Regions from separate parts of the Homo sapiens genome. Here all the other regions are linked to region 1. Evidence: fine-mapped QTL for protein levels in blood plasma. A gene starts in region 1. Each other region holds a variant in brackets. All regions are shown on one strand. Distances are from middle to middle. Region 1 holds the start of CA6 (carbonic anhydrase 6). Region 2 overlaps CA6 (carbonic anhydrase 6). Region 3 overlaps CA6 (carbonic anhydrase 6).

The links. PIP is the chance, under the fine-mapping model, that this variant and not a neighbour inherited with it causes the effect. Protein levels are from the aptamer-based SomaScan assay of Sun 2018.
Region 2: its variant is fine-mapped to the plasma level of the CA6 protein (Sun 2018, PIP 0.95).
Region 3: its variant is fine-mapped to the plasma level of the CA6 protein (Sun 2018, PIP 0.95). The variant lies in the coding sequence of CA6. If it changes the protein, the assay may bind it differently, which can mimic a change of level.

What each region holds. Positions count from the first base shown.
Region 1 is chr1:8,939,102-8,949,727 of GRCh38, reverse strand. CA6 (carbonic anhydrase 6) reads right to left here and starts at 3,860. Exons shown (of 8, transcript NM_001215.4): 1 at 3,763-3,860; 2 at 286-465. The coding sequence starts at 3,841.
Region 2 is chr1:8,971,739-8,982,364 of GRCh38, reverse strand. CA6 (carbonic anhydrase 6) reads right to left here. Exons shown (of 8, transcript NM_001215.4): 8 at 7,273-7,743. The coding sequence ends at 7,661. It also overlaps the pseudogene RN7SL451P. Among named protein-coding and RNA genes, the nearest start is that of CA6, 31 kb to the right of the region's middle. The variant T/C (reference allele first, on the strand shown) is at 7,826.
Region 3 is chr1:8,951,795-8,962,420 of GRCh38, reverse strand. It overlaps CA6 (carbonic anhydrase 6), which reads right to left. Exons shown (of 8, transcript NM_001215.4): 3 at 5,136-5,284; 4 at 3,419-3,511. Among named protein-coding and RNA genes, the nearest start is that of CA6, 11 kb to the right of the region's middle. The variant T/C (reference allele first, on the strand shown) is at 5,276.

The DNA.
Region 1 (10,626 bases):
GCCTGTCACCTGCTGGGTGGGTTGGGTGAGCTCGGGTAAGAGGATAACGCTGCAGGAAGGGACCAGCAGGGAGTTGAGTCGAAAGATGGATGCTGCCCTCTCTGGAAGAGCCACTAGGTTTCGGGGCCAGTCAGCCCTCATGTTCGACCCTCATGTTCGAGGCCTCCAGCTCTGAGGCCGTGCTCTGTGTCTCTGTGCAAGCCATTCCTGGCAGGGACACGTGTAACCTGCCTTCCCCTGCAGGCTGCCCATGGACTGGAGCCCCTCACCACCCCTTCCTCTTACCTGTGTGGCCATTGTTGACCATGGGGAACTCCCCTGCCTGGGTCTCATAGCCTGTCATATTGAGCCCCTTCAAGGAGGGGTTGTACCGCACCTTCGTCCTCTGTAGGTTGATAGGCGACTGTCTCTGGCCCCCACAGGCGGGGTAGTGCTGTGGCCAGTGCGCTTCGTCCAGTGCCCCTTCTAAGACAGGAAAGACACAGTTCAAGGGGCTGCCTGGCTGCGCCCACTCTGGAGGAACCTCACCAGGCCAGAGGCCAGAGGCCAGGGCCTGCTGGGCGGGGACCCACGGAGGCACCTTCCAGAAAGCAGAAGCAGGTCCCCCAGAAGGAGGCCAAAAAGACAACGAGGTCAACTCCAAGGACTCTGGTGTTTGGGGGGCTTTGGTGCTAACCTCTAACTTTCCTGTGGCAACTGCTGGCCCTGGGAGCAAGACAGTGTTTTGAAATCAATGGAAGTCTTTTTTTTTTTTTTTTGAGACAGGGTCTCGCTGTGTCACCCAGGTTGGAGTGCAGTGGTGCAATCTTGGCTCACTGCAACCTCTGCCTCCCAGATTCAAGAGATTATCCGGCATCAGCCTCCGGAGTAGCTGGGATTACAGGCATGCACCACCACGCCTGGCTAATTTTTGTATTTTTAGTAGAGACGGGGTTTCACCATGTTGGCCAGGCTGATCTCTAACTCCTGACCTCAGGTGATCCACCCACCTTGGCCTCCCAAAGTGCTGGGATTACAGGCGTGAGCCACCGTGCCCGGCCTGAGAGTGTTTTATACGTAAATTTTTGCTCTCGTTTGACTTATTTCCAGCTGGTGAATGCATGGAGGGATCCTTGGCTTTGCTCTTCCTGTGCTGCTCCTGGGGCCTCTTCCTCATTTCCTCCCAAGGGCCCAGTTGTCCTTCCATGCCCCCAACAGGAACACAGCCCCCACCTCCCCATGCTGCAGGAACCCCCCACCACTATTTTCTTGCTCCAGCCCCTTTTATGGATTCCCGTATGGTAAAGACCATCTAGGTGTCTACACTTATGGATTCAGGGAAACTAAGGAAGCATCAGGTTCCAGGACAACCTAGAATGAGTACTTTTTTAAAATTCATAAGGAGAAAGTTTATCTTTTCAGAGAGGGTTGATAATCGTAGGGGACAGAGTAACATAGGTGAGTGATTATCATGGTGACTTGGCTCCCATACAGCTGTGGAGCTTGGAGTCAGCCATGTGACATGGAGAATCCCACCTCTGTTCCCTGTTCGGGGGTAGCTGTGTGGTGAGTACACAGCTTGTTTTAAGACAGGTGTTTGTGGCTGGGCACGGTGGCTCATGCCTGTAATCCCAACACTTTGGGAGGCCGAGGCGGGTGGATCACCTAAGGTTGGGAGCTCGAGACCCACCCTGACAAACCTGGAGAAACTCCATCTCTACTAAAAATAAAAAACAATCAGCCGGGCATGGTGGCACATGCCGTTAATCCCAGCTACTTGAGAGGCTAAGGCAGGAGAATCACTTGAACCCAGGAGGCAGAGGTTGCGGTGAGCCGAGATCGCGCCACTGCACTCCAGCCTGGGCAACGAGAGTGAAACTCTCAAAAAAAAAAAAAAAGGTGTCTGTACTAGGGCCCTCACCGCTTTTTGGTTTGTAATCAAGGCAATTGGCCTGGAGCACAACGCCTTCTCAGAGCAAGATGCTTTGGCCCAGGGCACTGTCAATACTGGAACATCTCTCAGGTTTCCCTGGAAGGCATTTACAAAAGCTACTCTCAAGTTCTCCTGGAGCCCCTAGTAGTTTCCCAGGAAGCCCACTGTCTCAGAGGCTGGGCAGAGCCTGGGAAGGACAAGGACTTCATTGTCTGAATTCTCTCTTCCTTCACCTCTGAACCACCTGCCTGCACTGCTTGGCCAAGTGAAGCAGAATGCCCCAGGCTTCCGAGGCACTGCCATGTGTAAGATCACTGTCCTCAGGAACAGAGCGGTTGTTCAGAGCTGGCTGGACTTTCTGAACCTCCCAGGATGTCCCTAATTCCGTTGCCCTTGACTTAACAGATCATCCCGTTCACCCTGAAGGAATGCTTCCGGAGCAGCTGAACTGGGGCAGACTCTGCAGGAAGCAGATGTTTGTCTCACTTCCTGCATCAGCCAGCGGCCACCAGCCTCCTCATGGGCCCCAATCCATGGTCCCGTATGGAAAGAAGGGGGATGCGGGAAGAAGCTCTCCTCACTGCCCCTGGAAAGGGCTGTTTAGTGTCCACAAAGTCCACAGACACGGCCTTCTAGCTTTGGCTCACATGTGGACCAGAACCCATGTTGAATGCCAGGATTTTACATTTCACATTTTAAAAGTCTGGTTTGGGGCCTGGCGCGGTGGCTCACGCCTGTAATCCCAGCACTTTGGGAGGCTAAGGTGGGCGGATCACTTGAGGTCAGAAGTTTGAGAACAGCCTGGCCAACGTGGTAAAACCCCATCTCCACTAAAAATACAAAAGTTAGCCAGGCATGGTGATGAGTGCCTGTAATCCCAGCTACTTGGGAGGCTAAGACATGAGAATCGCTTGAAACCAGGAGGCAGAGGTTGCAGTAAGCCGAGATGGCACCACTGAACTCCAGCCTGGGCAACAGAGCAAGACTCTGTCTCAAAAAAAAAAAAAAAACAAAAAAAAAAACACCTCTCATTTTGGCAGCCCACAGATCAAAGGGAACTGGGTCCTTATGTCAAGATGTTCTGGGTAAACTGCCTACCATGAAATTTCCAAGAAAGAAGGTCTCGCAAACCCCACAGCACCTTCCGTGAGGTTACCGAGAGTCTTTTCTAAGAACTTTGTTTTCCACTTACACGGACCAACAAAGCAAATGGTTTTACAAATAGAAGCAGTGAGTGTGCTTTTGAACCAGCCAACACTGTGGATGGAAAAAAATTTAAAGCAAAAAGCCTGTAAGTAAATCAGGAGTTTGTGAAGGGGAAAGCTATTTCCTTCTTTTCCTTATTTGAAGTTTAAGTTCAGCTTATTCTCCATACCTTCTGAGACACTGAAAAGGTAACATCTGAAGCCACAATGAGCAGACCCCCAACATATGGCAAGTGGGCTGCCTGGCCATCCTGTGAAATGCCCTAAAGGAGGACTCTTGGCCGGGCGCAATGGCTCATGCCTGTAATCCCAGCACTTTGGGAGATGGGCAGATCACCTAAGGTCAGGAGTTCGAGACCAGCCTGGACAACATGGTGAAACCCTGTCTCTACTAAAAATACAAAAATTAGCCAGGCATGGTGGCAGGCACCTGTAATCCCAGGTACTCGGGAGGCTAAGGCAGCAGAATCACTTGAACCCGGGAGGCGGAGGTTGCAGTGAGCCAACATCACACTACTGTACTCAAGCCTGGGCAACAGAGCAAGACTTTGTCTAAAAAAAAAAAAAAGAAGAAGAAGAAGGGCACTTGTCCTGTTGTAAGGGTGTGAGGGTAACTGGGGGAGCATGCAGAAGCTAGGGGCTCACCTGAGTAGGTCCAGTCAGACACATGCTGGGCCTGGCCACCCAGCAGGAACAGGGACAGCAGAAGCACCAGGGCCCTCATGGTGCTGCACATCTGTAATGAAGACTGATTCCGGCGAAGCTCTTCTTTTAAAGGCTCAGAAACTGTAAATAACAATTTACAATTGATCTGCCCAGCTGGCTAAACCACCCTTTGCTGCACCCACTAAAACAATAACACCCTCCCCATAACAGCACTTCTGGCTCCGTGCATTGCGCCAGGCAGCCCCAGCACCTGCCTGATCTCCTCCCACGTCAATTTCATATCCGGTCAGTCCATGGGTTTGGTTGTTCAGTGTCTTAGGAACACCTGAAGAGCCACACAGTGCAGCCATTGTGGACAGGTGACCGCGGAAATGGGAAAAGGCCCAAGGCAGGGAGAAGCAGGATGAAAGACTTTCCTGGACGTCGGACTTCCCATGCTCTTTCTCCTGACATTAGAGATCTGGGGACTGCTGATGGGATCACCACTGCCTGCAAACCCTGCCCATCTCAGTCATGGACACAAGCCACCGCTGCAGACATGTGGCTGCCCTCAGCCAGGCATCCAGGGAGGTGGCCTGGCCTCCATGTTTGGACATTTCACGGTCCTCTCCTTAAACCAGTGGTTGATCCTGGGTCCCAGCTCATGAGCCACATTCCAATGTGTGCCTTTATGCCATTCAAGCTGGTGTGGGCGTCTGCATTTCTACATGGATTTGTTCTGACACCTGCAGGGCTCTTGGGCACACCTAAGCCAATCAGCCAATTGCCCTCGCAGGATCCATGGATTACCTAATCCTGTGTATTCACTTGGCTAGACAGTCCCTGAAATTAGCTGAAGGAGAAACTTTTGAGTTTATGCCTGCTGACAGGCCAGCATTTCCCATGCCCTTCCACAAGGTCAAACACAAAGGGTAGCCGGAGCTCCTGCGGGGGGGCTACCATGCTGCCGGACACAAAGGGCCACCCCTGCCTTGTTATGGGGAGCTGAACCCCCTCCTGGCCTAGCTTAACTCATTGTCCACTTGGTCCTGGAATGGCAAACGTCAGCAGGCCTTCACAACAAGGATGTTAGCGGTGAACGTAGGCCTCCCGAATACTTCTAAGACTCCCCACTGTCATTTAATAGGGAACATCAGCTGCTGCAAAGAACTTGCTGGAAACTTCCATTTCTAAAGCTCAAGAGCTGAAAGAATCTCAGAGAGAGAGCAAAGCATGTTCAAGGACAAGGATTCTGAAACTAGACAGGATCTGTGCCACCTGCTAACTGTGTGACCATGGGCAACTCAGCGCTCTGTGCCTCAGCTTTCCTTCCTTTTCTTTTTTCTCTTTCTTTCTTCCTTTCTCTCTTTCTTTTCTTTCTCTCTTTCTCTCTTTCTTTCTTTTTTGAGACAGGGTCTCTCTCTGTCACCAGGCTGGAGTGCAATGATACGATTTCAGCTCACTTCTCTTGGACTCAAGCAATCCTCCTGCCTCAGCTTCCCAAGTAGCTGGGACCACAGTCGCATGCCACTACGCCCTGCTAATTTTTGTACTTTTTGTAGATACAGGTTTTCACCATGTTGCTTAGGCTGGCCTCAAACTCCTGGACTCAAGCGATTCTCCCGCCTCGTGCTCCCAAAGTGCTGGGATTACAGGCGTGAGCCGCCGCACCTGGCCGCCTCCTTTCTTTAAAAGGAGTTAGTGATAGCACCTCCTTTGTGGGGATTCGGCAATAAATGTGCCTGCAGTAGTTGGAGCAGTGCCTGGTGTGTAGCAAATGGCATTAGCATCTATTCAGACCCCTCATTTTATAGGAAAAGGAAGTGATTTATCATTGCCACCCAGCTGGTTAGTGAGGGAACTGGAGGAAAAATGCTTCAATCTCCAGCTTATGGACCATTTCTTTGCAAAAATGAGAAACCTACTCTTCTGTCCTTGCTAAACCAGTGACGCCCACCTGCTGACTCCCAGCCCTGCGGAAAGGGCCACCTTGTAAATCACAAGGCCCCACCTCTGCTGAGGAGACCAAGACCCTTTACAAGCCCAGGCAGGACCCCTGACATCAAACTGGCAGGAAAACACAAACTCAGTCATCTGAATTTTTTCTTGGGAATCTGAATTGGGAGACCCAGAAAGAATCAGGGAGCTGCAGGCAGGCAGAGACTAAAATGTCAGGCTGTCACGGAAGCCTGGGAGGACTGGATGAGCCCAGGCGAGGGGAACTGGAGCAGGAAGGAGCTCAGAGAAAGCCTGGGCCAAGGGGGAGGGGAAGACTGCCCAAAGAGGGGCCCTGGAGAGTCAGAGAGAGGAGTGCTTGCGGGAGAGCACAGTGAAATGCAGAGGGCCCACCACTCCTGGCAGCTCCCAGCCCCACGGGTCTCACTGCCCTGCGGTGAGCATTTGGGGCTTCCCAGGAGAGCTCTGGGGCGTTCCTTGCCTCACACAGCTCCTTAAAATACAGTGCACATACTGCGTCTGTGAAGCTGTGATGCCAGCAGCCCCTCTGCAGAACTGCTGTGCAGCGTATCCACCCATCACATCTGAAGCTTTGCCCTGGTTTTGCCTTTCGCTCAGGCAAGAGCCTGGACTGGCCAGCAACCTGTTGACCTGGCTGGTGTTGAGAATTGGTGTGAAAGTGAGTAATTAAGGCAATACGGGGGTCAGATCAGATGATGGCCTCTTGGAGAAGCAAGGCCATCTGCCAACGAGGGCATATTTCTAGAGAGAGGGTCCCCTCCCTCCGCTGTACAGCACACTGCCAAGGACATACTGGACCCAGAATCAGGTGTGGTCAGTAGTGTTGCCTATTTTCTGACTCCTTGTCTACTTCAAACCTGAAATTTTCCGTCACCTTTGAACATGAGTCTTCTTCTTGGATTTGGGAGGCACATTGTTTGTTTGGGTTTGCTTTTGTTGGTGGTGGTGGCAGTGGGTTTTTGTTGTTGTTGTTTTTGGTTTTTGGTTTCTTTTTTGAGACAGGGTCTCACTCTGTTGCCCAGGCTGGAGTGCAGTGGTGCAATCATGGCTCACTGCAGCCTCCCAGTGCTCAGGTGATCCTCCCGCCTCAGCACCCCCTTCCGCCTCATCCCCTCCAAGTAGCTGGGACAACAGGTGCGTGCCCTATGTGTGCTCTGTTTTTGTTGCTTTTATTTTTAGTGTGTCTCTCTATGCTATGAGCTTCCTTCTGCCTTCATCCAACCATATCCTTGGCTGATCAAGGTTGTTTTTTTAATTCTAAACTCCTATTTTTCTAGGGTCTATGGTTGGATTGGCTGTCGGAGATGAGTTGACAAGTTTATCATTATTACAACATCAGGTCAAAGGGAGAAAGGAGCCTTTGTTCTTCCTTGCTTCTACCACTGCCCCCCCGACAAGGCCCACTGAGGCAAGGAAAAAGAAGGAGGCAGGGAGGCATGGCCAGCCCAGGTGGGCAAGAAGGCACCATCAGCCCAGGTGAGCAGGGACAGATCATGAACCAAATGACTAGGGAGGCACCGTTAGCCCAGGCTGCACAGGACCAGCATAAAAGAATGAGTCTGGCAGGCCAGGCACGGTGGCTCACACCTGTAATCCCAGCACTTGGGGAGGCCGAGGTGGGTGGATCACCTGATGTCAGGAGTTCAAGACCAGCCTGGGCAACATGGTGAAACCCCGTCTCTACTAAAAATACAAAAATTAGCCAGGCATAGTGGTGCGTGCCTGTAATTCCAGCTACTTGGGAGGCCGAGCCATGAGAATCACTTGAACCCAGGAGGCAGAGGTTGCAGCGAACTGAGATCACGCCACTGCACTCCAGCCTGGGCAACAGAACGAGACTCTGTCTCAAAAACAACAACAAAAACAAACAAAAAACAAACAAAAAAGAAAGAGTCTGCCTACACAAGAATATGCTTATTTGGGTGTAAGTAACACAGAAAGGCTATTGTTCTGTTTCATGCAGGAGTGTGAGCTCATCCTGAAGAATGAGTCACTCTGAACAAGTAAGTTCTAGATGGTTACAGGCTCAATCCTATGTAAGCACCAAGATGTTTAAAACCTCTAAAATGTACGGTACAGTTTTAAAAAGATAAAGCTGAATTTTATTAAACTTTTCTTAATGACTGAGTCCCACTAATATGAACATCAATTATTCTCCTGCATTGTAATATATTGATGTCTGCTGGGCCTATAACATATAACATATATATATAATTCTCCCTGCAAGAAACGACCCCTGGCCAGGCACAGTGGCTCACACCTATAATCCCAGCACTTTGGGAGGCCAAGGGGGATGGATCACCTGAGGTCAGGAGTTCGAGCCCAGCTTGGCCAACATGGTGAAACCCCGTCTCTTCTGAAAATACAAAAGTAGCCAGGCATGGTGGCATGTGCCTGTGATCCCAGCTACTCGGGAGGCTCAAGAGGGAGACTCCATCGTCTCAAAAAAAAAAAGAAAGAAAGGAAAGAAATGACCCCTAACTGTAGTTTTTGGATTTCTTTTACCAGATACTGAGAGAGGAAAGTTAGCTAGCTTAATTGATTACTAAAGCAATGCACGTTTATGCTCAGGGGTATCCATAAGGCTGGGACATAACCAATCAGGACAGAAGCCAGACTTGGTGTGGAGGAAAGTCTGAAAGCTCCCTGCTCTGCCAGGAGTTAACCCTGGATTGGTGGATTGTAGGGAGATTGGGAAGTTCTTGGGAAGGGCTGAGCGGCAGGAGCAGCTGGAGGTACCATTGTGTGTGTATTGATTTTGTTTTTCATTGTTTTTTCATTGTTAGCATTTCTTTCTTTTTTTCTTTTCTTTTTTTTTTTTTTTTTTTTGAGATGAAGCTTCACTCTTGTTGCCCAGGCTGGAGTGCAATGGCGTGATCTCGGCTCACTGCAACCTCCACCACCCGGGTTCAAGTGACTCTCCGGCCTCAGCCTCCCAAGTAGCTGGGATTACAGGCGCCCACCACCATGCCTGGCTAATTTTTGTATTTTTAGTAGAGACGGGGTTTCACCATGTTGGTCAGGCTGGTCTTGAATTCCTGACCTGAGGTGATCCGCCTGCCTTGGCCTCCCAAAGTGCTGAGATTACAGGTGTGAGCCACCGCGCCTGGCCCACTATTAGCATTTCTAACATGGGCTTCCAGCTCTTGCCTCTTAGGGTTGTCTGTCTGTTCTCATCTCCTGGCTTCCTCATCTGTTTGGCAGAAACCAGATGACCACACTTCTTAAAATTACATGTCCAAGAAGAATGGATAGAGCTAAGCCAACAGCCCAGAGACTGTCCTCTACCTAAAATACACACACTCTGAAATGCCTTCGGCATTTTGATGCTAAACTCACAGATTTCTATTTCCTTTCTGACTTTCAGCTATATCCATATAAATGGAGCATTGACAAGTCATTGTGTAAACTAACCCACTCGCAAAATATCCAGCTACAGTCAGGTCCAACTCCACGGGGGGGCCCTTGCTTTCTCTCACTAGCCTCCTGGTGATGAGTTCCCCAGTCTTAGAGAGTATCTCCAGCCTCACACATCCTCCTGGAATTCAGCACCTGTTGGGTAGGGTTGTCTCCCAACAGGCATCTCCTCCTGTGTCTCTATCCTCTTCCCCACTGGGTACCAGTAACCCACATCCAAAAGCAATCAGCCCAAAACCCTAGTGGAAATCCTCTTTTCTATCATTAATTTAGGTATAAGCAAAATAGGAACCAAATACCTAAAAATATTTACAGCTCAGCCTGCCATCATCCTGTGCCCCTTCTCTGTGCAAACTCACCATCCTCCTGCCACGAGAATTGGATGTTCTGTTTGTATCTCTTGCTGGCTCTACCTTCTACTTCTTGTAGAAGTAGAGTTCTGTGTTCTGTGTCTTTTATGTGGCAGAAGCCGGGAAGTCTTCCGTGGGCTTTGCTCAAATGGGAGGGTAAAATTCCCTACTAGGAGTGTTGCATCTGTATATGCCTGGGATTGGCCAGAGTGACTCCATCTTGGTTATTATCCATGAGTCTTGCTTATATCTCTTCAGTGTGCTCCACCCCTAGTAGGCCAGAGTCTTGCTTATATCTCTTCAGTATGCTCCACCCCTAGTTTACATCTGCATGGCAGGTTTGTATGCCTTTCAGCTCCACCCTTCCCTGGTCAATAAGCAGGTCAAATCCACCCTTCCTGATCAAATGCATAATGAGTCGTCACCCTCCCCTCATGCCTAAGGGACCGATTATGCAAGCAGAGGATTGTATTAGTTTCCCACTGCTGTAACAAACTGCCAAAAACTCAGTGCTTAAAACAACACAAGTTCATTATCTTACAGATCTAAAGGTCAGAAATTCAAAACCAGTTTCACTGGGCTAAAGTCAAGGTATGGGCAGGGGTGGCTCCTTCAGAGGCTCTGAGGGGATCATCGGTTCCCTTGCATTTTTCAGCTCCTAGTGGCCACCTGCATTCCTTGGCTCGTGGCTTCTTCCTTGAATCACTCCAATCTCTTGCTTCCTTTGTAGTTTGCTTAGTCCTTAGTGCAGCTAGGTCCGAGTTCTTGCTCTACGACCAAGAAGAATAAGGCACACAGACAGTGGAGAGTGAGTAGAATAGAACAGGATTTATTAAACAAAAGGAAAACTCTCAGCAAAGAGAGGGGTCCTGAAAGCGAGGCAGAAATTTAAAAATAACAATCATAATAATAAGTACTGCACTTATTCACCCCAAGAAAAGTAAAAGCTAAGGCCCAGAATGTGGCAAGGCAAGGTTTCAAAAGAAAAAGAAAAGGACAAGTTTTCCTCTGCTTAGCAAGCTCATTTCAAGGACTGTTAACAACGCTGTCGGAATAGCCAAGGCCAAAGGAATGGGCTCCAGACACTCCCCTGCTTCCAGAGCAAGGTTGAGGGGGAAAA
Region 2 (10,626 bases), 33 kb before region 1:
TCCCCCCTCCTTATGATTTTTCTGTTGGGTTGTTAGTTGTTTTCTTATTGATTTTTAGCATTTCTTTATATGAATGCTAATTCATTCATTCAGTACATTTTCACTGAGCATCTTACATACCAGATAGTCTTTTCAGGTGGTTGGAGTTTGTCGTGAAAAAGAAAACAAAAATCCCATCTTCCTCATGGGGCTTACTTCTTCATGGCGAATTACACATTCTTCTGTGGCCTGAGTTTCCAGAAGCACAGTGTGTACTCTTATTTCGTGTTCAGTGATGTTAACACTGCTCAGTGTTTCCAAAGGTTGTCGGCCTGATCCACAGAATAGGATAGGATAGAATAGAATAGAATGCAATATAGTGTAAAGATCCCATCAATCTCCCATCTAATGGTGTTGGAAACCAATCATGATCATTACCGGGGTCCATCATTTCATTGAGGCTGCAAAATGACTCCTTCTGAATATACTAACTGTAATTCCTCCAAGAAGAACTCATTCTCACCAACTCTATAGGGTAGAACAGTGGCCACCCCAAAAGAATGTCCCCCCAGAACCTGTGAATGTGACCTTATTTGGAAAAAGGGGGCTGGGGGGGGTGGCTCATGCCTGTACTCCCAGCTCTTGGGAGGCCAAGGAGGGCAAATTGCTTGAGCTCAGGAGTTCCAGACCAGCCTGGGCAATAAGGTGAAACTCTGTCACTATAAAAAAAATTGTTTTAATTAGCTGGGTGTGGTTGAGCGTGCCTGTAGTCCCAGCCATTTGGGAGGCTGATTCGGGAGGATCACTTGAGCCTGGGAGGTTGAGAGGTTGAGGATGCAGTGAGCTACGCTTGTGTCACTGTACTCCAGCCTGGGCAACAGAGGGAGACCCCATCTTGAAAGAAAGAAAACGAACTGAGAAAGCAGGAGGAAGGAGGGAGGGAAGGAAGGAAGGAAGGAGAAGGGGAAGGGGAAGGGGAAAGGGAAGGGAAGGGAAGGGAAGAGAAGGAAGAAAGAAGGAGAAAGAAAGGGAAAGGAGAGGAAAGGAAAGGAAGAAAGAAGGGAGGGAGGGACAGAAAGGGAAGGGCAAAGGAGGAAGGAAGGAAGGAAAAAAGAAAGAAAAGAAAAGGATCTTTGCAGATATAATCAAGTAAAGAATTTTGAGATGAAGTTCTGGATTATTCAAATGGACCTTAAGTCCAATGACAAATGACCTTATAAGAGAAAAGCAGACGGACAAAGACACAGAGAAAAAGGGAAGACCATGTGAGGATGGAAGCAGAGACGGAGTGATGCAGCCACAAGCCAAGGAATGCCCGTGACCGCTGGAAGCTGGAAGAGGCAAGGAAGAAGCCCCCCAGCATCTTTGAGGGCAGCTTGGTCCTGCCAACACCCTGATCTCAAATTTCTGGTGTCCAGAACTGTGAGAAAATAAATTTCTGATATTTTAAACCATGTCGTTTGTGGTTATTTATTACAGCAGCCTCAGGAAACTGATGCAACCAACCATAGGATCTCTCAGCTGCAGTGTGCACAGGGAAGGCGGGACATATATTTGACCCTTTCTTTCTATTTGCCAATTTACAGAAAAATAAATGGTTTCCCTAGCAACCTCCAAAGAAGACCAGTGCGTTTTCTTTCACTTATTTTTAGGACCATAATGAACTCATATATTTCTATATATTCAGTGTTTCAATTTTCAATCCATTGCAGTTATGATTCTTTTTATGATATTGTTCTTTTGAATGCTTAAGTTGACCCAGGAGCCCCTTCAAGATGGCCCCAGTGTCTTTTTGACATAAATCCAGTACTTAGTTAAATTTCTTGTTTTCTGGCCTAAAAAGATATCCCAGGTTCTTCTTAAATATTCTTTTTTTTTTTTTAATAGACAGGAGTCTTGCTCTGTTGCACAGGCTGATCTCAAACTCCTGGCCTTAAATGATCCTCCCAACCCTGCCTCCCAAAGTGCTGGGATTACAGGAGTGAGCCACTGTGCCCAGCCCATCTTCTATATTCTTGTTCCGCATCTGGAATCAGTCATTTCTCCAAGGTTCCCTGATTCCTCATAGTGAAAAATGATATTTAGAAGCCACTATCTGGGCCGGGCACAGTGGCTTACGCCTGCAATCCCAGCACTTTGGGAGGCCGAGGCAGGTGGATGATTTGAGGTCAGGAGTTCAAGACCAGCCTTACCAACATGGTGAAACCCCGTCTATACTAAAAATACAAAAATTAGCCGGGTGTGGTGGCGCGCGCCTGTGACCCCAGCTACTTGGAAGGGTGAGGCAGGAGAAATCACTTGAACCCAAGAGGTGGAGATTGCAGTGAGCTGAGATCGTGCCACTGCACTCCAGCCTGGGCAACAGAGCAAAAGTCCATCTCAAAAAAAAAAAAGGGGAGCCATTATCTGGTTATAAGGTGTTAATTGCTTGTAGGTTGTTTTTGTTGGTAAGACGTTTCAGTGAACAGACCTAGGAAATACATGTTTTTAGAAAGAGAAAAAGAATTTATTGCCAAGTGCAGTGGTGCGTGCCTGTAGTCCCAGGTAGCTGGAAGGCTGAGGCAGGAGGATAGCTTAAGCCTAGGAGTTCTGGGCTGCAGTGCACTGTGCCAATCAGGTGTCCACACTAAGTCTGACATCAGTATGGTGACCTCCCTGGAGCAGGGGACAACCAGGTTGCCTAAGGAGGGGTGAATCAGCCCAGGTCAGAAATGGATCAGGTCAAAACTCCTGTGCTGATCGGTAATGGGATCATGCCTGTGAATAGCCACTGCACTCCAGCCTGGGCAACATAACAAGATCCTGTCCCTAAAAAAAAAAAAAAAAGAATTTATAAATTTATATTGATATTTCTAAATTTATGATTACAGAGTTTTTATCTAGCTTTGTTAATTTTTTTTTTTTTTTTTGAGACAGGGTCTTGCTTTGTCACCCAGGCTAGAGTGCAGTGATACAACCACGGCTCACGGCAGCCTTCACCTCCCTGGCTCAAGCAATCCTCCCACCTCAGCCTCCTGAGTAGCTGGGACCACAGGCATGGACCACCATGCCTGGCTAAATTTTATTTTTTGTAGAGATGAGGTCTTGCGGTGTTACCTAGGCTGGTCTTGAACTCCTGGGCTCCAGTGATCCTCCCACCTCAGCCTCCCAAAGTGCTGTGATTAAAGGTGTCAGCCATGAAGCCCAGCCTAATTTTTCAATTTGGATCTCTGTTTTTTATGCTGAAAATCTTGTTAGTGAGGACATTAACATAATTATTTGTGCACATATAGTAGTAGAGGATAGTAATTGCACACACACACAATTTCAAAATAACAATACCAATATAATTTTTAAGAGGATTCCTAAGTACTGTTTAAGATTCCTTGGTACTTCTTCTTGTCCTTAGGATATACTGCAGCAGGTATGTAGATGAAAAATACCGTGTCTAAAATAACATGAAAAAATCCTTCAGTGTTCATGCCACCGGCCCTATGTATAATTGTTCAATTGTTCTGCTATATTTTTATGTTGAAACGTAACTCGCGTTTTATGTTTCAGGAATGCTTTTTTCCTTACTTACTTAATTTTACTTTGCAATTACATAAAGCCTGATGTTCCAAAGTCAAAACTACCAAACAGGGCACATCCAGAAAACTCCACCTTCCCACGCCACCCTCAGCACCCTTCCCCTGCCTTCTCTTTTTAGGAAACCTTTTTTTGTTGTTGTTGTTTTTTTTTTTTTTTTTTTTTTTTTTTTTTTTTTTTTTGAGACAGAGACTTGCTCTTTCGCCCAGGCTGGAGTGCAGTGGCGCGATCTCGGCTCACTGCAAGCTCCGCCTCCCGGGTTCATGCCATTCTCCTGCCTCAGCCTCCCTAGTAGCTGGGACTACAGATGCCCGCCACTACGCCCGCCTAATTTTTTGTATTTTTAGTAGAGACGGGGTTTCACTGTGTTAGCCAGGATGGTCTTGATCTCCTGACCTCGTGATCCGCCCCCCTCGGCCTCCCAAAGTGCTGGGATTACAGGCGTGAGCCACCGCGCCTAGCCTAGGAAACCATTTTAATTTATTTTTGGTTTCTTTTTCCCTGTTTGTGCTTCAAAACATAAACAAATACTTAACTATATTCATATTTCTAATTCTTCTTGTGCCATCTGTAAAATTGCTTTTTTCAGGCTTAAAAACATAGCCTACAGGCCAAGCGCAGTGGCTCATGCCTGTAATCCCAGCACTTTGGGAGGCCAAAGCGGGCAGATGATCTGAGGTCAGGAGTTCGAGATCAGCCTGGCCGACATGGCAAAACCCATCTCTACTAAAATTACAAAAATTAGCCAGGGCGTTAGTGGCATGCACCTGTAATCCCAGCTACTCAGGAGGCTGAGACAGAAGAATCACTCGAGCCTGGGAGGCAGAGGTTGCAGTGAGCTGAGATCGTACCACTGCACTCCAGCCTGGGTGACAGAGACTCCATCTCAAAAAAAAGAAACAAATGTAGCCTAGAGATTATTCCCTATGCAGTTCTCTGTTGTGTGAATAGCCCTGGTTTAGTCAACCAATCCCCAACTGATGGACGTTTGTGTTTTTTCCTGTATTTTGCTGTTAAAAAGGTCAGCATGAATGGCTTTTTTGCAAGTTTCTTTCTTTCTTTCTTTCTTTCTTTCTTTCTTTCTTTCTTTCTTTCTTTCTTTCTTTCTTTCTTTCTTTTTTGAGATGGAGTCTTGCTCTGTCGCCAGGCTGGAGTGCAGTGGCACGATCTCAGCTCACTGCAACCTCCGCCTCCTGGGTTCAAGCGATTCTCCTGCCTCAGTCTCCCGAGTAGCTGGGATTACAGATGCACGCCACACCCAGCTAATTTTTTTGTATTTTTAGTAGAGATGGGGTTTCACCATGTTGGCCAGGATGGCCTCGATCTTCTGACCTGATGATCCACCCACCTCGGCCTCCCAAAGTGCTGGGATTACAGGCGTGAGCCACCGCGCCCGGCCACAAGCCTCTCTTAAGGATAGACTTTCAGGGGTGGGAGGGCTGGATCCCTGAGGACAGGCAAGTGTAATCCCATCTCCATCTTCATTTCCTTGTCTGCCTTCCCACAGGAATGTAAGTAAGCTCTTTGGCCGTACCGCCCACTGTTGCGTCTCTCATTCATTATAGACACACATATCTGGTGGAAAGAATGAATCGCACCGTGTCGTTCCCCTGTGGAAACCCTGCAGTCGCTGCCGTCACCTACAGGGTAAAATCCGAAACCCTTTAGTGGCACAGAAGATACCAGTGACGGCCTGACCTGCCCTGGCCACACCCCCGCTTTCCGTGCCAGCATCCTTGAACTTGGTCCTCTGACCACGCCAAATTGCTTCCACTTCCCCAGGTGTCTTCCCATCAGCACATGCCACACTCTCGGGTTACAATACCCCCGCCCCTCTCTGACTTGGTTTCCCAGGTGAACTCTTTCTCAGCCTTCAAAACCCAGGCCAAGCACTTGGATTTTAAACACAGGCGCTCCCTCCACCATGGGGCGATATGGCGATTACTTATTTTAGTGTCCACTCTGCTCACCAGACCCGAGCTGTAGGAGTGTGGGAGCTGTTCTCACCCATCCCTGAACCCCCAGCACCTAGTGTTATGTCAGGCTCAGAGCAAGTGCATAAGAAAGCTTGTTGAGAAAATGAAAGGGAGGCTTCCTATGGTTAAAAGAATGTGGATACAAAAGACTTGGGTTCAAATCCTGGCTTTTCATCTGCCACCTAGGAGATCTTGGGCAAGTCGACGTCTTGGTTTGCTTTCTGTAAACTGGGGATAATGCAAGTTCACTGAAGGTGGCCTTCGGGGCTGAGGGCAGTCACGTGTGGTGGAAGTGCTTAGGATATGACAAATAATGACATGGAAAAACAACAGAGGTAACAAGAGCAGAAGGAATTCAGAAGAGCCAGGGTGAGCTCAATCAGAAGTGAGGAGGAAGCTAAGGCATGGGAAGGAAGGGGCATCGATGAAGGGAATGCATAAGTGACCAAGAAAATTGGTAGCAGCCAGGTGTGGTGGCTCATGCCTATAATTCCAGCACCTTGGGAGACCAAAGGTAGGAAGATCACTTGAGCCCAGGAGGTTGAGGCTGCCATGAAGCTAGGATCACCACTGCACTCCAGCCTAGGCCACAGAGCAAGATCCTGTCTCAAAAAACATAAAAATAAAAATAAAAAATATGGGTCACTCTTCTGGGTACTTCTCAGTGTTATTTAATGATAAAAAAAATATGGGTCACTCTTCTGGGTACTTCTCAGTGTTATTTAATGAAGCCACAGCCCTATGAGCCCTGTGAGGTCATGTTATCATCCCACATAACTAATGGGATGCCTGAATCTGGGTCTGGTAACAAGGACCAGGCACCATTTGACCAACAAGGGGGTTTGCAGTGAGGTCCCCTCTCTTCTTTCCTTCTGTCCTGGGAGCCCTTCTTCTTTCTCGTCTCCTGTTTTTTCTTTGACTCACAGCCACTGCTCCAAACTTCCCCACTGACAAATTCTCAGTGTAAGAATCTCTTCCTAGGCCAGGGGTGGTGGCTCACGCCCGTAATCCCAACACTTTGGGAGGCCGAGGCAGGAGGATCACCTGAGATCAGGAGTTTGAGACCAGCCTGGCCAACATGGCAAAACCCCATCTCTACTAAAAATACAAAAATTAGCTGGGCGTGGTGGTGCACACCTGTAATCCCAACTACTTGGGAGGCTGAGGCAGAATAATTGCTTGAACCCAGAAGGCAGAGGTTGCAGTAAAATTATACCACTGGATTCCAGCCTGAGCAACAAAGCGAGGCTCTGTCTCAAAGGAAAAGAAAAGGCCAGGCGCGGTGGCTCACGCCTGTAATCCCAGCACTTTGGGAGGCCGAGGCGGGCGGATCATAAGGTCAAGAGATCGAGACCATCCTGAGCAACATGGTGAAACCCCGTCTCTACTAAAAATACAAAAAATTAGCTGGGCATGGTGGTGCGCAACTGTAGTCCCAGCTACTCAGGGAGGCTGAGGCAGGAGAATTGCTTGAACCCAAGAGGTGGAGGTTGCAGTGAGCCAAGATTGTGCCACTGCACTCCAGCCTGGCAACAGAGTGAGACTCCATCTCAAAAAAATAAGCAACAACAACAAAAAACACCTCCTTCCTTTTTATTAATCTTAGTCTTGGAAATCCCTCCCACTTTGATCTCTATCCCTTCACCTATGTGCGGTTGTGGGGGAGTAGGGGGAGGAGTGGGGGGAGGAGTCGGGGGCGGGCAGAACAAAGAAGGGATATTTGAAGTAATACAAAGGAATAGGAAAGAAATTTTTAAATGACAAATTTCCAAAGTTATTTTATTACATCTAATGCTAAAGGAAAGGTCAGGCTGGTTTATAATTCAGACAGGTCAACATATATGATTTGATGGGAGAATAGTTAGGGTTCCATTTCCTTTAAGTTTCTATTCCAATCAATTTCCACTGGTGATGTCTAACTCAGATCCCGTCTCATGAACTGAAGCCATCTCACTTCCTGTCCAGGATGATCGTTTCCCCTCTTTTAATCAGAATCCCAACAGCTGCCCCAGGGGGAGCAGCGTGTTCCAGACACACATGGTTTCTTAGACAAGGTAGGGTGCGGCTGCAGCGGACAGGCACTTCTGGCTAGGTCAGGCTTCAAGCTAGTTAATATTGAATCTTCCTCTTAGCTTTCCTCAGTTCAATGCTCTTCTTAAGTAGTCAAGAATTTCCTCAATCTTATGTAGGTAAAACTGGAATTCAGAGCCTAGAGTGTATTCTGTAAAAAGAAGAGTTAGTCGGAAATGGTTAAACCTTGTACAGTCCTCACAAAAACAGAGAAGGGGGACGGCCAGACACCA[T/C]ACCCGCATCGTATTTTTGGGAAGTCTTTTGATTCCTTAGAATGCTCTCCACGTGCCCGGTGCATTGCCTTTAGTCATCTTCACTGTGTTTGAACTCAGGCTTCTAAGCTGCCCAGAGCCAAGGGGTGGCGTGTTGAGGTGGGCTGTACTCTTGGATTTTGGCTTCTCCCACGATGCCCCCCGTGGCCCTTGCCTGAGGGGATATAGGCGTTTTCTAGTAAATAAATCGCAAGAGGTCCGTATTTGGCCATCGTCTTGTTTTTGTAACTGACCTTGGTTTCTCAATTCACTCCTTGCAGGTGGGTTAATCATATCAACCCCGCTGGGATACAGTTCTCTACAGAACAGTGAAATACCATGAGTCACGCAGCTGGGTTGACCACAGCCAATCACTGCTACATAGAAATCTGGGCCTGGCCAGGCGCGATGGCTCATGCCTGTAATCCCAGCACTTTGGGAGGCTGAAGTGGGTGGATTGCTTGAGCTCAGGAGTTCGAGACCAGCCTGGGCCACATGGCCAAAGCCCGTCTCTACAAAAAAATACAAAAATTAGCTGGGTGTGGTGGTACATGCTACTCCCAGCTACTTGGGAGGTCGAGGTAGGAGGACTGCTTGAGCCCTGGAGGTCATGGCTGCAGTGAGCCAAGATTGCGCCATTGCACTCCAGTCTGGGCAACAGAGCAAGACTCTGTCAAAAAAAGAAAGAAAGAGAGGAAGAAAGAGAGAGAGAGAGAGAGAGAGGGAGGGAGGGAAAAGAAAGAAAGAAAGAAAGAAAGAAAGAAAGAAAGAAAGAAAGAAAGAAAGAAAGAAAGAAAGAAAGAAAGAAAGAGAGAGAAAGAAAAATCCAGGCCTGAGGGAAGGTGGGCCAAGATGATGCCCAGTTGTCTGTTCTATAATCAGCAAAGGGAGGCCACAATTCGGGTTCCCTGGGGGTAAGGAAGCCCTCTGATGCTGAACTGGGAGTTGAAGTAATCGATCCTAAACAGCGATTCTTAGTGGACCTACAGACAAATCACAGCATGGAATACCTCAGTCTGGGGCCGGTACCTAGAACATCTGACCCCCTCGTGAGGAGATGCTAGAGTGACGCTGTAGTGGAAAAAGCATTTCAGATGTGGCAAATAGAACGATACGCAGTCTGTTAGTGACTATTGCAAGAATAGCGTAAAATTGTTTTAGGGAAAGCAGGGGAAATATGGCAACATTTAGACCTAGGAGACAGGCCGGGCACAGTGACTCACACCTGTAATCCCAGCAATTTGGGAGGCCGGGCAGGCGGATCACCTGAGGTCAGGAGTTCAAGACCAGCCTAACCAACATGGTGAAATCCCATCTCTACTAAAAATACAAAAATTAGCCTGGCGTGGGGGCGCGTGCCTGTAATCCCAGCTACTTGGGAGGCTGAGGCAGGAGAATTGCTTGAATCTGGGAGGCGGAGGTTGCAGTGAGCCCATGAGATTGCACCACTGCACTCCAGCCTGGGCGACAGAGTGAGAGACTCCAAAAGAATTAGGAGACAGACCCATGAGTCTAAGCTCCCTTTGGTCAGCCTGCTTGCAATTGGACCTGTTAAAGACGACATCACTTTCGGACAAAGGGATTCTTGCTGTTAATGTTGTATATGGTATAATATGGGGAAATGATTACTGTAACTGATGTCAGTTTTTTTCTTCTGTTAGTATTGTATTGGAGGAGTGAATTGTATTTCAGGAAACAATATAGAAAACACCTATATCCTCTGTTAATTCAGTAAGTGAACCAGGAAGGAAAGGTGGGGAGAAAATCACAAATAGGCCTTATTCGGGTTGGGGAGGTGGAAATTTAATTTTTTTGTTTGTTTGTTTGTTTTGGTTTTTTGAAACAGAGTCTCTCTCTGTCGCCCAGGCTGGAGTGCAGTGGCGCAATCTCGGCTCACTGCAAGCTCCGCCTCCCGGGTTCATGCCCAGCTACTCAGCCTCCCCAGTCTCAGCCTCCCCAGTAGCTGGGACTACAGGCGCCCGCCACCTCGCCTGGCTAATTTTTTGTATATTTAGTAGAGGCGGGGTTTCACCATGTTAGCCAAGATGGTCTCGATCTCCTGACATCGTGATCTGCCCGCCTCAGCCTCCCAAAGTGCTGGGATTACAGGCGTGAGCCGCCACACCCGGAGGAAATTTAAGTTTTAAAAGGTACATATAAAGATGGGATAAGGCCGAACGAGGTGGCTCGTGCTTATAATCCCAGCACTTTGGGAGGCTGAGGGGGGAGGATTGCTTGTGGCCAGGAGTTTGAGACCAGTCTGAGCAACATAGTAAGAGTCCATCTCTACAAAAACTACAAAAAAAATTAGCTGGGTGTGGTGGTGTGTGCCTGCAGTCTCCGCTACTGGGGAGGCTGAGGTGGGAGGATCACTTGAGCCTGGATGTTTGAGGCTGCAGTGAGCCGTGATTGTGCCACTGAGCTCCAGCCTGGGCAACAGACTGAGACCTTGTCTCAAAAAAGAAAAAAAAAGTGGGATAATATTGAGTACACAATATTGATAGGATACTGATTCTACTGTATTGGAAAATATAAAGGTATCAGGAATGGTTAACAGAATGGGCTGTAAAGACAATGGATTCACCACAACTTTACAGAAAGCAGACAAAATAAAGATGAGGAGGCTGTGAAATATTTACACTCTTGCCAACACAGAAACGAGGTGAGCCAAGGACACGGTTGGAGCCTGATCCAAGGAACTGGAGGATGCAGCGGAGGCTGGCCTGCCCGCACCTGCTTCCAGCACGCTGGGGTCTGGGGCCTGCGCCCCAGGCAGATGCAGG
Region 3 (10,626 bases), 13 kb before region 1:
CTACCAACCACGCAGGTTCATGAGTCCTTCCAGAAAGGCATTATCTGAAGTATTTTGGCAGCTTCCAGGGAAAGAAGCTTGTCAGTCATTGGTGATGCCCTCAGAAATGGCCAACTCTTACTCTAAAAAAGTCCCCTGTGCGCTTGTTTTTGTTTGTTTGTTTGTGAGTTTTTTTTTTTTTTTAAGAGTCTTGCTCTCTTCCCCAGGCTGGAGTGCAGTGGCATAATCTCGGCTCACTGCAACCTCTGCCTCCAGGGTTCAAGCAATTCTCCTGCCTCAGCCTCCCGAGTAGCTGGGATTACAGGTGCCCACCACCACACCTGGCTAATTTTTTTGTATTTTTAGTAGAGATGGGGTTTCACCATGTTGGCCAGGTGGGTCTCCAACTCCTGACCTCAGGTGATCGGCCCACCTCGGCCTCCCAAAGTGCTGGGATTACAGGCGTGAGCCACCGCACCTGGTCTGTGCACTTGTTTTGGGCAGTGTCAGCCACAGTCAGATTCTTTGTGATGAGGAGGGCTTGATCTCACAAGTTCCCTTCTTCATCCTCAGGACTTCCGACAGAGAGCCAGATGTCCAAGGCAGAACGACTACAATTCCCCCAACACCAGGTCACTCTTTCTGAATGAGTATTGACTTTAACAGTCAGAAAAGTTGCTTTGGGTGAAAAAGGTCTATTTTCAATGGCTCTTTTCAGTCAAGTGGTGTTGATCTCTTTCACTGTGCATAAATTTGGCTTTCTTGGCTTTATGACTGCATTTGCTATTTGTTTTCTAGATGTCTCGTGCCTTTTTTGTTGCATTGGTCCACCTTTACTGCCTTCTTTTGTGTTAAGCAAATACTTCTCATTTACCATTTAATCATTTTTAGTTATTTTCTTAGTGGTTGCTCAAATGATTACCATATACAACTCAATCACAATCTATGTCAGGTTAATATTAACTTAATTTCAGTAAAATATAGCAACTTTGCTTCAAAAGAGCTCTATTTCATCCTCATCCTTCTATTTTTGTCATATGCATTATATCTACATATATTATAAGTCAGTGGTATAGTCATTGCTTTAAATAATCTTGATGGTTTTTAAAAAGAAATTAAAAGAAGAAAACACAAAAAATATATGTATGTAGTCTTTTCTATTCTCCATTTCCAGTACTCTTCACTTCTTTCTGTGGATCGGAGTTAACCGTCTGGTATTATTTTCTTTCAGCCAGAAAAGCATCCTTATATATGACTTGTAAGATAGACCGGCTAGCAATTATACTGGTTTTCGTATATCTGGGAATGTGTTGTTTCACCTTCATTTTTGAAGGGTGGTTTATTGGATATAGAATTCTTGATTGACAGTCATTCCACTGTGTTCTGATGACTTGAAAAGTCAGCCATTAATTGTACTGTCATTCCCCTACATATAATAAATCCCTTTTCTCTTGCTGCTTTCAACAGTTTGATTTTTGATGTATCTAGACTTGGGGTTTATTTATCAGACTTGGGGTATTTTTAGTTTCTTGGATTGATAAATTTATGTTTTTCCTCAGATTTGAGGCTTTTGGGCCATTGTTTTGTTTTGTTTCATGTTTTTCTTCCACTTTCTCTCTCTCCTTTCCTTCTGGGACTCCCATTATATATATGTGTGTGTGTGTGTGTGTGTGTGTGTGTGTGTGTGTGTGTGTGTGTTGCTATACTTGATTTTGTCCCCATGAGTCTGCAAGGCTGTTCATTTTTCTTCTGTCTTTTTTCTCTGTTTTTCAGATTGGATAATTTCATTGCTCTATCTTCAAATGCACTGATTCTTTTTTTCTTCTGCTGCCTCAGATCTGCTTTGGGCCCATCTAGTGATTCTTTTTCCATTTTGTTTATTGTACTTTTCAACTCTAGACTTTCCATTTGGTGCATCTTTAAAGTTTCTATTTCTCCATTGAGATTCCTTTTTTGAGTCATTGTCATCATATTTTCCTTCAATTCTTTGAACATAGTTTCCTTTCATTCTTCAAACATTTATGATAGTTGTTTTTTTTTTTTAATTTTTCTCCCAGCCACAGCATTGATAGTTGTTTTAAAGTCCTGTCTGCTTAATCACTCTGGGTCCACTCAGGTCAGTTTCTATAGATTGTTTTGAGTTATTTTTTCCTCCTAAATATGGATTACATTTTCCTATTTCTTTGCATGCCCGACTTTTTTTTTTTTTTTGAGACGGAGTCTCGCTCTGTCATCCAGGCTGGAGTGTAGTGGCATTATCTTGGCTCACTGCAGCCTCTGCCTCTTGGGTTCGAGTAGTTCTCCTGCCTCAGCCTCCTAAGTAGCTGGGATTACAGGCGTGCGTCACCACGCCTGGCTACTTTTGTATTTTTAGTAGAGATGGGGTTTCCCCATGTTGGTCAGGCTGGTCTTGAATTCCTGACCTCAGGTGATCCATCTGCCTCAGCCTCCCAAAGTGCTGGGATTACAGGCATGAGCCATCGCGCCCAGCTTTTTTTTTTTTTTTTTTTGAGATAGAATCTAGCTTTATTGCCCACGCTGGAGTGCAGTAGCACGATCTCGGCTCACTGCAACCTCCACCTCCCGGGTTCAAGTGATTCTCCTGCCTCAGCCTCCCAAGTAGCTGGAATTACAGGCGCCTGCCACCATGCCCAGCTAATTTTTGTATTTGTAGTAGAGATGGGGTCTTGCCATGTTGGTCAGCCTGGTCTTGAACTCCTGACCCCAAGTGATCCATCCACCTTGGCCTCCCAAAGTGCTAGGATTACAGATGTGAGCCACCACGCCCGGCCCCACCATCTAGACTTTCTTAGAAATGCAGAGGTGTTGACTGGGCCTGGTGGCTCATGCCTGTAATCCCAGCACTTTGGGAGGCTGAGGTAGGGGGATCACCTGAGGTCAGGAGTTCACAACCAGCCTGGTCAACATAGTGAAACCCGTCTCTACTAAAAATACAAAAATTAGCCAGACGTGGTGGCAGGTGCCTGTAATCCCAGCTACTTGGGAGGCTGAGGCAGGAGAATCATTTGAACCTGGGAGGTGGAGATTGCAGTGAGCCGAGATTGTGCCACTGCACTCCAACCTGGGTGACAAGAGTGAAACTTCGTCTCAAAAAAAAAAAAAAAAGGAAATGCAGAGGTGTTGCCTTTGTCTGACTGAGTTGCAGGTTTCCCCTTGCCCTTCGAACAATTTGTGTCTACGCAACCCCTCTGGGATTCCAGCTCTTTTAAGTCAGCTTGTCCACGTTAACCAAGGTCCGGAGATTGACAGCACGGAAGGAGCACAGTGATCTTCCATCGAGTCAATGTTTCCAAGAACTGTGAGCTCAGGAAAAGATGAAGAGTGATAATAAAGAAGACTGTTCAACTAGACTTCACACCTTGTTTGGACATCAACCTATAACTTCAAATACAGACACACATGGGTAGTTTCTGCTTACCTCAACGAAGGCTGCCAGTACAGCCAAACCATCCGGCGCATCTTGGGCTATATCATAGCTCTTGTATTTAGAATTGTAGTGAACAATGTGAATCTGTAAGAGCAAGGTAGAGTGGGTCAAGGGCAGTTCATAGAAATTCAAATGCTTAAGATTTCCAGGGAAGGAGGAAGAGAAAGAAAGGTGCTCCGTCTGAGGCCTCAGACTGTTCCACACAAGCAACTTGGACCTCCATCTCTCTCCATCTGGGCTGCAATTCCTATCTATCAAGAGCAGAAACTTCCCCAAGAATGGAAAGAGCAAGAGTGGGATTCTGGAAGATGGCAGTTCGAGGCCATTTCCCGACCACACCTCCCTCCAGGCAGACAAGCTGGCAGAGTCTGAAGGGATCACATGAGGACAGTGGGTTCTCCTGGAGTGTCTGGGGGCTTTGCAGGGAGAGTGAGCTTGCGCCCCTTGTCCCAGGCAACCATTGTTAACATGTAGTCATCCTATGGATGGATTCTGGCAAAAGAGGTAACTCAGAAAATCTAACACAGTCCAGGCACAGTGGCTCATGCCTGTAATCCCAGCACTTTGGGAGGCCGAGGCGGGTGGATCACTTGAGGTCAGGAGTTTGAGACCAGCCTGACCAACATGGCGAAACCCCGTCTCTACTAAAAGTACAAAAATTAGCCGGCCATGGTGGCAGGTGCCTGTAATCCCAGCTTCTCGGGTGGGTGAGGCAGGAGAATCATTTGAACCCAGGGAACGGAGGTTGCAGTGAGCCAAGATCATGCCACTTCACTCCAGCCTGGGCAAAAGAGCAAAACTCTGTCTCAAGAAACAAAAAAAAAGAAAATCTAACACATAGAAATCCAGCTGAAACAAAGGAGGGCTTGCCACACCCTGTGGGCTGTGAAGTCCTGCCAACCTGAGTCCTGTGAGGGCAGGACCTTGCCTGAACCCCTGTCACAAAGTGGTGATCTGTCAATAGTTGCTGAGTGAATAAAAAATAAACTCAACTTCAGCATGACTTAACTGCTACCATCGCACAGTCTTTTGGCTGTTTTTGTTTGTTTGTTTTGTTGCTCAGACTGGAGTGCAGCGGCATGATCAGGACTTACTGCAGCCTCAGCCTGCTGGCCTCAAGCGATCCTCCCACCTCAGCCTCCTCAGAAGCTGGAACTATAGGCGTGTACCACCACTCCTGGCTAATTTTTTTTTTTTTTTTTTTTTTTGTAGACACAAGATCTCGCTACATTGCCCAGGCTGATCTACAACTCCTGGGCTCAAGCAATTCCCCTGCCTTGGCCTCCCAAAGTGATGGAATTACAGGCGTGAGCCAGTGCACCTGGCCTTGGCTATTTTAATAAGAAAAGTGACGGCTGGGCACTGTGGCTCACGCCTATAATCCCAGCACTTTGGGAGGCCAAGGCGGGTGGATCACCTGAAGTCAAGAGTTCGAGACCAGCCTGGCCAAAATGGTGAAATCCCGTCTCTACTAAAAATACAAAACTTAGTAGGGCATGGTGGCGGGTGCCTGTAATCCCATTTACTCGGGAGACTAAGGCAGGAGAATTGCTTGAACCCAGAAGGCGGAGGTTGCAGTGAGCTGAGATTGTGCCACTGCACTCCAGCCGGGGCAACAGAGCGAGACTCTGTCTCAAAATAAATAAATAAAAAGAAAAGTGACTATGGGGTTCAAAGGAAAGAGGACACAGTGGGGGTCCTCAGGTACCTCGATCACATGTCTGATCCCGTCCACGGTGTGCTCAGAGCCGCTGATCTCCGAGGACGCACCTCCCCAGTGAAAGTGCATCTGCTGGGCTATGTATACAGTGCCGTCAGCCACTGTCATGCGCATGGTGGAGGGCAGGC[T/C]GATCTGCACTGGAGAGACAAGGTGGGGCTGAGAGCAGAGTAGGTGAACACAGAGGGGTCAGGCCTACAGGCTGGGTAGCTTCTCTGCTCACCTCCCACCTGTCTGAGCCCAGGGCAAGCCAATACCATAGACTGGCTTAGAATGCCATGGGCAGGGTCACCAAAGGAGAAGAGGCGTTTGCGCACAGGGCACAGGGTGAGGTCAGGATGGAGGCCAGGCACTAAGTAAACCAGGCTGGGCAAGTGCCTCTCCCCAGCACGCTCCTTCCCGCCCAGAACCAACAGGCCAGAGGCAGGACCACACAGTGGCAGGTCCAGCTTGCTGGCCCCAGGGAAAGGGAAGGTCCTGAAAAATTATGGCCAATGGGCTTGGAAACTAGAATTCTACTCTCTATCTCTGGCCAAGTTTGGAATTTGCCGAAGGTATAAGAATAGGAAGTGGGGCCTCTTAGAACTGTTTTCTTTTCTTTGTTTTTTTTCATGCTCACTCTGTTGCTCAGGCTGGAGTGCAGTGGCACCACGATGACTTGCTGCAGCAACTCACTGCAGCCTCCAACTCCTGGCTTCAAGGGATCCTATCACCTCAGCCTCCCGAGTAGCTGGAACTACAGGTGCCCGCCACCATGCCTGGCTAATTTTTGTGTTTTTAGTAGAGACAGTGTTTCACCATATTGGTTACGCTGGTCTCGAACTCCTGACCTCAAGTGATCCACCTGCCTCAGCCTCCCAAAGTGTTGGGATTACAGGCATGAGCCACCACGCCCAGCTGAAATCTCTGCCTTTTGGAATGAACTACACAAAAAGAAAAAAACGGGCTCAGTTACTAAGAAAAGTGACTAAGAAAAATATCTATGAGGATATAATTTCGGCGTTGGAAAGGCAGCATGTGTCTCATGAGCAAGATCTTCCTATTTATTTATTTTGAGACAGAGTCTTACTCTGTCACCCAGGCTGGAGTGCAGTGGCATGATCTAGGCTCACTGCAACCTCCGCCTCCTGGGTTCAAGCAATTCTCCTGCCTCAGCCTCCCCAGTAGCTGGGATTACAGGCATATGCCACCATGCCCGGCTAATTTTTGTATTTTTAGTAGAGACAGGGTTTCACCATATTGGCCAGGCTGGTCTCGAACTCCTGACCTCAAGTGATCCAACCTCCTCAGCCTCCCAGAGTGCTGGGATTATAGGCGCGAGCCACTGCGCCTGGCAAGATCTTCCTATTTAAAGTCATCAATGGTGGCTGTAAACAAGAACATTTTCTTAAAAGATAGCAAATATGAGGTATTTAAAACCTGTCACGTGCCCCCTCTTTCTTTCCAAATTGTCTAAAGGAGCGGGGAGCTATGATTAAATTCATAACGTAATGTGCTATAATGCAGTAATCCGGCCTGAAAGGTTTTCACCGGCTGTTTGGCAGAACAAATGCTCTGTATTTAGAGCTTGAGATGTAGCTGGCCTCAAAAATCAATGCTTGCAAGAAAAGGACGGAAGGGCCTTAAAAGGAGGCGTGGAAGGGCCTTAAAAGGAGGCGTGCAAGGTCAGTGATGCTGAAAGCAGACGGGAGCCGAGGAGCTGAGGACCCGAGCAGAGCTCCCTAAATGGACAGTAAGCACCACAGGAGAAATGAGAGAGGTCCTCACAATTTCCCCAAAACACAGCTCCCGGGAGACGGAATGTGTTACTTCTGGTTACACTGACAGGCCCACACAGGCCCAATTGGAAAAGAGCCACAACCCTGAGCCTGTTACTGTGCTTTTTAAAAAAGATTTTAATTGAGGCAGGGTCTTACTCTGTCACCCAGCCTGGAGTGCAGTGGCATGACCTCAGCTCACTGCAGCCTCGACCTCCCAGGCTCAAACAATCCTCCTGCCTCAGCCCCTCAAGTAGCAGGGACTACAGGCACACACCACCATGTCCAGCTAATTTTTAAGTTTATTTGTAGAGACAGAATTTCACCATGTTGCCCAGGCTGGTCTGAAACTCCTGGGCTCAAGCAATCCACCTGCCTTGGCCTCTCAAAGTGCTGGGATTATAGGTGAGCCACGGCACCTGGGCAATATATATTAATGGATCAGTGCCGGCACCTGGGCAATATATATTAATGGATCAGTGCCGGCCCACCAACTGTTACTAGTCTGCACCAAAACAGAGAAATTGGGAGTTCATTTTAGAAATTTTGTAGCAACTTGTCTTTGTTTCAACAGCCTGTGTTTCAATTTGAATTTCTCTTTATTGAAATGTTGAATCTAATTTAAATTTAATTTTAAAATGAGGAGGCCAGGCCCGGCAGCTCACACCTGTAATCCTAGCAATTTAGGAGGCCAAGGCAGGCAGATCACCTGAGGTCAGGGGTTCAAGACCAACCTAGCCAACATGGCGAAACCTCGTCTCTACTAAAAATACAAAAATAACCCAAAAATATGGACAAAATCTATATAAGGAAAATCACAAAACTAATGAAATAAATCAGGAAGAACTAAATAAGTGGAGAAATATTCCATGTTCACAGATAGGAAGACTTAATACTATCTCAATGTCAATTATTTCCAACTTGGTCTATATGTTACCAAAAACCGGTCCCAATCCAGACCCCAAGAGAGGGTTCTTGGATCTCACACAAGAAAGAATTTGGGGTGAGTCCACAGAATAAAGTGAAAGCAAGTTTATTAAGAAAATAAAGGAATAGGCCAGGCGCAGTGCCTCACACCTGTAATCCCAGCACTTTGGGAGGCCGAAGCAGGCAGATCACTTGAGGTCAGGAGTTCAAGACCAGCCTGGCCGACATGGCGAAACCCCGTCTTTACTAAAATTATAAAACTTAATGGAGCATGGTGGTGCATGCCTGTAAACCCAGCTACTTGGGAGGCTGAGGCACGAGAATCACTTGAACCAGGAGGCAGAGGTTGCAGGGAGCCAAGGTAGCACCACTGCACTCCAGCCTCAGAGCAAGATTCTGTCTCCAAAAAAAAAAAAAAACGGAAGTAGTGGAATAAAGAATGGCTGCTCCACAGGCAGAGCAGCCCCAAGGGCAGCTGGTTGCCCGTTTTTATGGTTATGTCTTAATTATATGCTAAACAAGGGGTGTATTATTCATGCCTCCCCTTTTTAGACCACATAGGGTAACTTCCTGACGTTGCCATGTCATATGTAAACTGTCATAGCACTAGTGGGACTGTAGCAGTGAGGACAACTGGAGGTCACTCTCGTGGCCATCTTGATTTTGGTAGGATTTGTCAGGCTTCTTTACTGCAACCTGTTTTATCAGCAAGCTTTATGACCTGTATCTTGTGCCAACCTCCTATCTCATCCTGTGACTGAGAATGCCTTAACCTCCTGGGAGTGCAGTCCAGTAGGTCTCAACCTTATCTTACCCACCCCCTATTCAAGATGGGGTCACTCTGGTTCAAACGCCTCTGACATTACTATACGATCAAGCAAGCTCTTGGTAATTACCCACATGGACTGAAAACACACAAACCTACACATGGAATTGATTGATTGATTGATTGACTGATTGATTGATTGATTGAGAGAAGGTCTTGCTCTGTCACCCAGGCTGGAGTGCAGTGGTGCAATCATAGCTCACTGCAGCCTTGACCTCCCAAGCTGCTCAAGTGAGCCTCGCACCTCAACCTCCTATGTAGCCAGGACTGTATGTTTGAGCCACCATGCCAGGCTAATTTTTTTATTACTTTCGTAGGTCTCACTACATTGCCCAGGCTGGTCTCAAATTCCTGGGTTCAAGTGATCCTCCCACCTTGGCCTCCCAAAGTGCTGGGGTTACAGGCATGAGCCACCATGCCTGGCCTGCATATGGGTTTTATAACAGCTTTATTCATAACTGCCAAAACTGAGAAGCAGCCCGGATGTCTTTGGATAGGTGAATGGATAAACTGGTTCATCCAGGCAATAGAATATTCAGCACTGAAAAGAAATGAGCTATCAAGCCATGAAAAGACATGGAGGAAACTTAAATGCATATTGCTAAGTGAAAGAAGCCAATGTGAAAAGGCTACATGCTGTGTGATTCCAACCATATGACATTTTGGAAGAGGAAAAACTATAGGTCAAATAAAAAGATCAGTGATTGCCAGGGTTTAGGAAGGAAGGGAAAGATGAACAGGTGGAACACAGGATTTTCATGACACTGAAATGATTGCTCGATACATGTGATTAGAAACCTTTCAAAACCTGACTGGGCATGGTGGCTCATGCCTGTAATCCCAGCACTTTGGGAGGCCGAAGTGGGCGGATGACTTGAGGTCAGGAGTTTGAGACCAGCCTGGCCAACATGGTGACACCCTGTCTGTACTAGAAATACAAAAATTAGCCAGGCGTGGTGGCACATGCCTGTAATCCCAGCTACTGAGGAGGCTGAGGCAGGAGAATTGATTGAACCCGGGAGGCGGAGGTTGCAGTGAGCCGAGATCGCGCCACCGCACTCCAGCCTGGGCTACAGGGCACGACTTCGTCTCAAATAAAAGAACCTTGCAAAACCAAAAATTAACAAATCTTTAATACGTCATGTCAACTTTACTGTTAAGCTTAGTGTTCATCAAAATCTCATTAGATTCAAAGTTTGTAGATTAGCTTTTTTTCCCCCTTCAGTAGAATTCCTGAATGTGCTTGGAGCTTGCTGAAAAGTAGCCAATGGCAATAGCCAAATAACTTCAAAAGCTAAATTATAAAAATCTTTCAAAATACTTTATATCAGGCTGGGCACGGTGGCTTATGCATATAATCTCAACACTTTGGGAGGCCAAGGTGGGCGGATCACTTGAGGTCAGGAGTTCGAGACCAGCCAGGCCAACATGCTGAAACCCCATCTCTACAAAAAATACAAAAATTAGCTGGGGGTGGTGGTGTGCGCCTGTAGTCCCATCTACTCAGGAGGCTGAGGCATGAGAATTGCTTGACCCTAGGAGGCAGAGGTTGCAGTGAGCCAAGATCATGCCACTGCATTCCAGCCTGGGTGACAGAGTGAGACTCCATCTCAGAAAAAAACCCTTTACATCGAAAAATGGAATTATGGCCAGCCTTGGTGGCTCGTGCCTGTAATCCTAGCACTTTGGGAGGCCAAGGTGGGCAGAGCACTTGAGGCAAGGAGTTCGAGACCAGACTGGCCAGTATGACAAAACCGCATCTCTACTAAAAATACAAAAATTAGCTGGGCGTGGTGGCACATGCCTGTAGTCCCAGGTACCAGGGAAGCTGAGGCAGGAGAATTGCTTGAATCTGGGAAGTGGAGGTTTCAGTGAGCCAAGATTGCACCACTGCACTCCAGCCGGGGTGACAGAGCAAGACTCCATCTCAAAAAAAAAAATTGTTTTTAATATATATATAATTAATGTGAAC